2 linked regions of the Homo sapiens genome follow. The protein of the gene in region 1 purifies or fractionates together with the protein of each later gene. This does not show direct contact. Each region holds a gene or a part of one and is shown in the gene's direction. Other genes may lie near its edges.

Region 1 (3,500 bases):
AAATTTTATTAGTTATTTTTGAATGTGTCCAGAACCAGAGTTGTTTAAACTGCCTTAATTTCTCTCTGCTTGGTCCAAGTTGCTGCATCTTTGGCAACGGCTTCCTCAGTAGCTTCCCTGCTTCTGTTCCTTGCCCTCCTTTCTTACAAAATATTTTCAACCAGGAAACAGACAGGCCTTTCTGTCATATAAGTCAGATTGTGTCCCTCCTCTGCTTCCTGTCCCACTCAGGGTGAAAGCCCACATACGAGGGCTTCAAGGCCTGCTCATGATCAGATGCTACCTTCTGTACCTAATCTCTTTCATACTCCCCTGCACCTGCTCCCCATCCAGTCATACTGCCCTCCTTAACGATCCTTAATTTGCTCTAAATGTGCACCCAACAATGGCCTTTCCAAGTTTTGTTCCCTCTATCTGGATCACACTTTCCCTAGATAGCTGCTGTCTTCTCTCCCTTCTTTCATGCCTGTCTTCTAATGTCACCTTATAATGAGGTCTTCAACTTCCCTCACACCTGACACTCCCTGTTAACTTTTCCTTGCTTTAATTTTCTCTTTGAACTTTCTTAAATACTGTGTTTAGTTTTTATCTGTTTAATATCTGTTTCCCTCAAAGAAACTATCAGATGCATGGCAACAGGACTTTGTCTGGTAGTTACCCTAGCACATAGGCCAGTGCCTGGCAAAAAATAGGCAACTGGTAAATGTTGAACAAATGAATGAATGAATGTTATTATGGAATTAACAAATCTGTACATCATCACTTTTATATGATGATCAGCACTCTTTTGCTCTGAAACTTTTGATAATTCTCTATTTTCAGTAAAATACAGACCAACACTTTTGGATAATCTTTGTTGGACTGGCTCCAAATTATCCTTAACTCTCACAGGATAACCCCAAGCACCCAGTGTTCCAGCCACACAGAACTAGTGATACATCTCTACATCAGCCCCAGGCGGTTTCCTTTGTGCCTTTGCACAAAATAGAAGTACTGTGATTTTTTTTTTTAATATCAGATGGCTTTATTTTTCTAACTAACGTAAAGGGTAAGATTTTAGAATTTATGTCCTTGTGTGTGGAAGGCATTGCATGGAGTGTTGAAGCCAGGTGGCTTGGATTTAAATTGTGGCTCTGATATAAATTAATTTTGTTATTCTTTACAAGGTACGGAACTCTAAGTCTCTGTTGCAATATTTGTAAAATGAGGAAAATAATATTTTCTTCATTGGGTTGCTATGAAATTTAAGAGATGCTTGTAAAGCTCATCAGCATAGTATCTGGTATATAGTATGTGCTTAATAAATGTTAGCCTTAGAAATATTAATTTAACACCTCGTGCTGAAATGAGAGGGAGTTGAGGGGGGGTGCATTAGTATTGTTACTGGCCACGTCATCAATGCAGTCCTTGGACTCCACTGCTTCTCTTCGCTTTGTTTGCCTTAGCGGAAGTTGAATGGCAGGTTGCTCCACCTTCTCATCTCACCTAAACAATGAGGGAGCTTCTCTTTGTGAGTGTACCACTCAGCTCATCCAGTAGATGCCTACTGATCACCCAGTATGAGCCCAGTATTGTGCTGTGCCCTGGCAGTAAACAGCCACTTCTCTGAGGAGCTTATGATCAAGTGAGGGAGACAAACACATACATAGATAATTTCACTATAGTGAGCCAGGAGCTAAGATAAAAGCTCATTCTCATCTGTGGTTATAGAAATGAATTTTTAAAAATGGAAAGGTTTTGCAGACTATGTGCCCTGTGTAACATAGTCCATTTGAACAGCCTCAAGCCTGCATTTAAATTAACAGTAGATACACCAAATGATCATACTGATTGTAAAGATGTTTTATGTGCACTACAGAGGTGAAAACAGTTTTGGTTCTCTGGATAATATTGGGGTACCTAAGGAACTAGAAAGTAGGGCTGAGAGGACTAGGCAAACATTTGCAGCCTGTGTACGAAGTCATGAAGTGAGGATAAGCAGAGGTTTAATTCAAATTATTATGTAAGGGTTTGAAATTTGGGACCCTCTAGAAGATATCACTTCAACTTCAGAATTATGAGGCAAGAATAAATTCCAGCCAGCTTAAATGATCAATAATGGAGTCCTGTTTTGTTCTGCTAGTTGAAATTGTTAGTGGAAATAAAGAATGAGCTGTAAGCATGATGGGAAATATCTTACTGGAAGAAACACTTCCAGCTTTGTGGTATATTAGAAAGATTAAGGGCTAGGTGTAAGTCTGGATTCAAATCCTGATGTTTCCACTTGTTATATAAATTAAACAGGCAGCAACTGCTCTGAGCCTTTGTTTTCTTCCCTGTAATGTGGCAGTGATAGTAGCATTCATGGCATTACTGTGGTAATTAAATAAGATCATGTACTAGTGCAGGATTATTGCTCAATGCTATAGTTCTCTTCCCTAAATAATATAAATGCTGGAGAGAAACAGCTGTCTCAGAAATTTTTTGAATGTTCTAATTTAACTTGAGCATGTGGACATTACATAGCCCACGAAGCAAGTTTCCGAACTTAAAAACAACAAGAAAATAAGTATGTGCTAGCCTCCAAAATGCGTGTATTTAAAAAAAGAGTCAAGATTATATGTATTGGAATTGATCTGGCCGTCTGCAGGAAATGGTGATCAGGCCCTGGAGTCAGCCTCAGAGGCTCAGATCACAGCTCTTCTGAGAGGTGACTTTGGGCCAGTTACAAAGTCCATGTGAGCCTCAGTTTCCTCTCTGTAAAATGAAGTGATAGGAATGATAATAATGGTATTTCAGTAGTATTTCTAAATCCTACTGCCTTAATTCTGTGTGTTCATGGTGGGAGGGGAGGTGGTGATAGCAACCATATCAGAATTCTTCACTGGCGAAAGAAGCAACAGCAGCCTGTAATAACAGCTTCTTAAATAATACTCCTTTCTAGTTCTGATGGGCATATGGGAACTATTTCTTTTTCATGACTCACTGGTGACCAGTGATGAATTTTTTTTGTAGTGGTGGTCTGTGGACACTTCCAAAACTGTTGTGTGAAATCGAGTTCAAAACCAACCTATTCTGGCATTCTTACACATTGAATATCATGAAAACACATAAAAGTTCATTTTTTTTGTTCTTCACTACTTGCTCTGCTCTCTTTGATGTGAGAGTCACACATATAAGTTTCTGCTGCTATAGCAGGTGATGAGCCTCATACTGAAAAATATGAAAACAAAAACAAGACTCTTGAGGTAGTCACCATTCCTAGGTGGTCCAAGCTACAGCCCCTGGGGACAGATTTCAGAGTGTTCACAAAGATAACAAGGGACTTAAAATTGCTTAGAAGGCTTATGAATCCAGGGCACAGTCACTATTTGCTTGGCTGAATTCTATTGCCAATGTTTATATTGCCAATGTTTATATTGCTTTTGTAAAATAGTCATGACAAGTCCTCATTAACTAAGATTGTGGGTTGAATTGGCATTCGTCAGCCCAGAATATTGGATTGGGACTCAGGAGCCTTG
Region 2 (3,500 bases), on another chromosome or scaffold:
GCATACCGTAAGGCACAGCTTCTTCCCCCCGGCTCATGACTCACCATCTGACGCTATTCCTATCCCCTTCCTCCCCGGGACCTTTTCCCCTTCCTCCCTGGGACCTTTTCCCCTTCCTGTTTAAGAAGCCAGGGCTGCCTGGAGGAAGCTTTGTCAGATCTAGTGGAATGTGACCTCCCTGGAATATGTGCCCAGGGGTTTGTCTAAGCAGTTCCAGGCTATGGCCTTTACTCCATCTGGTCCCCATCCCTCTTATCTCTCTCATGTGTGGCTGCACCTGGACGCTTGGACCATAGCTGTCACAGCCCCCTGGGGAGGAACCCACTCCTTGGCCATGTCAGCCTGTGCAATGCAAGGCTCTTGTTTGATCTGTGTGCTGACAGAAAGCCCAGCTTCCTTAAGAACTTTTCATGTGGAACACTTTGGTTTTGAGAAGAAAATAAATCAGAAACCATTAAAAATCTATGATTCACTCTCATTATTAACCAAAACTTGTTCACCTTTATTTCATGTATTATGGGATCCAGCAAAACCCATTTATGGGACCAAAGACCCTGCCTGTATTGTTATTACTAATGTGTATTAGTCTGTGAAAGTCACCAAATCCCCGCCATGTTTTGATGCCTCTCCTTTCTTTTCTGTTCAGTGCCACCGTCCTTTTTTCATTTTCACGTAGCCTTGGCTTGCCTGGTCTCAGCATGCTAGGTTGCGGTTCATCCCTGCATTGCCTTAAAAACATAGTTTTCTGCATTGACTTCTTTTTCTTTTAAAAATAAAACTTCTGGCCGGGCGCGGTGACTCACGCCTGTAATCCCAGCACTTTGGGAGGCTGAGGCGGGTGGATCACAAGGTCAGGAGATCGAGACCATCCTGGCTAACATGGTGAAACCCCATCTCTACTAAAAATACAAAAAATTAGTGGGGTGTGGCGGTGGGCACCTGTAGTCCCAGCTACTCGGGAGGCTGAGGCAGGAGAATGGTGTGAACCCGGGAGGCGGAACTGGCAGTGAGCCGAGATCACGCCACTGCAGTCCAGCCTGGTCAACAGAGCAAGACTCCGTCTCAAAAAAAAGATAAAATAAATAAATTAAAACAAAACAAAACAAAACTTCCCAGGGGAGGGATTCAGTAAATTACAGAGCTTCCTTGGAGTGAAATTTCAGGTAATCACTAAAGCAAGTGGAACCGTGGAGGTGTGGGGGAGACAATTTTACCTGAGAAGTAAGCAAAACAAAATAACCAACCAGAAATCACTGTTGTCATTTGTTGTGATTATTGCCATAACCATGTCAGCTGTAAGGGCAAATGCAAAGAAGTTTTTTAGGGGAAAAGACACTGTCAACTTCACAATGATGCTTTCAGTGTTTGGATTTTACACACTTTTTAGTCAAATAAGGATTTTCTTTGTAGCCACACCAGATGCGAGGAAGGGGAGGGCAGAGGCCCCAGGTGTGGGGCAGAGCTTTGATTGTGTTACCTTTCACCTTCATCGGACCTCTTTTCCTCAGGAGCAGACACTTAGCAGCTGTTTTTTGTAAAGGGGTGAAAAGGGGAATTCACTTGCAAGTTTCTCAGGGAGGAAGAACACTGCACACTAGGAAGTGTTCTCTTGTGGCAAGTAGAGGACCACACCAAGGTGCCGAGGGGGCCACAAAGGAGAGGACGCCACTCTCCTGTCTGAGGAGGCTGGAAGGAGGCGTCTCCTTTGAGGAGGCTGGGAAGAAGAGCAAGCTCCCTGCTAAGGAGGGCCAGGGCTGGGTATGTTGTGCCTGGCAGTGGGGCCAGAGGGCTCCACTGAGCCAGCCATGTGGGTTGGACAGAGGAGGCACCGTGGCCCGGAGATACCTTCACTGCCATTTCCTTTTTGTTATTATTTTCTTTAACACATCAAAAGGGCAGGTCCTCTCTCTCTCTCTCTCTCTCTCTCTCTCTCTCTCTCTCTCTCTCTCTCTCTCTCTCTCTCCCCTTTTTTCTTTCTCTCCTTTTCTCTTTCTCTCTCTCTTTCCTTTCTTTCTTTCTGATTGGGGGTGGGGGTCTTGCTGTGTTGCCCAGACTTGTTTCCAACTCCTGGGCTCAAACCATCTTCCCACCTCAACCTCCCGAGTCACTGAGGTTACAGGCCTGAGCTACTACGCCTAGCTGTTTTCTTCTTAAAGGGCTGCCTGGGTTGCCAGCTTAGCATCTCTGCACATGGGAGGTAGGGGGCGGGCCTTGATTTCTCTGCATGGTAGATGCCGGCAGACTTAGCCTGGCATCACTATGAATGATGCCCTATGCTGGGCAGCCATGGCCCTGTCTTGGAGCCCCTAACAGTTCTGGCTTTTGTGGTTGCAGAACCAGTGCTGTGGCGCATATGGCCCTGAAGACTGGGACCTCAACGTCTACTTCAATTGCAGCGGTGCCAGCTACAGCCGAGAGAAGTGCGGGGTCCCCTTCTCCTGCTGCGTGCCAGATCCTGCGGTGAGTTGGCTTGTGCTGGGGCACAGGGAGCCCGCCCTTCCTGAAGCCCAGAAGCTTTCCTGACTCCTCCAGTGCTCTAGGATACTTCTCTGTCATGGAGGTCTGAGGAGCAGGTGTGCTTTCTCCACACCCTCCTCAAGGCTGCCTCAGCTCTGAAATCCGATATGTGTACATTCTAGGAACACTGCTTGCATGACCCACCCTGGCCTTGGTGTTCTGGGTGAGGCAGGAGAAAAACAGTATTATTTCTACCTGGAGGGCTGTCACTTGCAGCTGGCCAAGAGCTATGAGTGAAATAAGGCCCGCTTATCCCTCTTCCCTGTCCTTTTTCTGGAGCAGATTCCTAGAACTCAACAGTGCACGGGGGCTGTGGGTACACATCATTAACTGGGGAACAGTAGTGGAGAATTATTTTCTTTCTTTTTCTCTTTCTTTTATTTTTGAGACAGGGTCTTGCTGTGTCGCCCAGGCTGGAGTGTAGTGGCATGATCTTGGCTCACTGGAACCTCTGTCTCCTGGGTTCAAGCGATTCTCCTGCCTCAGCCTCCTGAGTAGCTGGGATTACAGGTGCACGCCACCACACCCGGCTAATTATTTTCTGTTTGTTGTTGTTGTTGTTGTTGTTGTTGTTTGGTTTTATTTTAGAGACAGTGTCTCACTCTGTCACTCAGGCTGGAGTGCAGTGGTGCGATCTCAGCTCACTGTACAACCATTGCTTCCCCGGGCTCAAGCAATTCTCCAGCCTCAACCTCCCAAGTAGCTGGGACCACAGGCTTGAGCACCACACCTGGCTAATTTTTGTATTTTTTGTAGAGATGGGGTTTCACCATGTTGCCCCGGCTGGTCTTAAACTCCTGGGCTCAAAGCGATCTGCCCATCTTAGCCTCCCAAAGTGCTGGGATTACAGGTGTGGGCCGCTGTGCCTGTCCTGTCCTTTCTTTACCTATTGGCATTCCCAATCCAAGGCCAACGTCCTTGGGTTCCAGAAGCTGGGTTCTTGGGGTGAACTGTGAAGGAGCTCTGAATTTTGCCTGAACTGA

What was found.
Region 2: the proteins of TMEM117 (region 1) and TSPAN14 fractionate together in Homo sapiens (co-fractionation; one large-scale study listed by BioGRID). This does not show direct contact.

Annotation. Positions count from the first base shown.
Region 1 is NC_000012.12:43,839,081-43,842,580, forward strand, and holds part of TMEM117 (transmembrane protein 117), read left to right. Parts: intron 1-3,500. UniProt on the Homo sapiens protein: Involved in endoplasmic reticulum (ER) stress-induced cell death pathway.
Region 2 is NC_000010.11:80,509,810-80,513,309, forward strand, and holds part of TSPAN14 (tetraspanin-14), read left to right. Parts: intron 1-2,334; coding exon 2,335-2,460; intron 2,461-3,500. UniProt on the Homo sapiens protein: Part of TspanC8 subgroup, composed of 6 members that interact with the transmembrane metalloprotease ADAM10.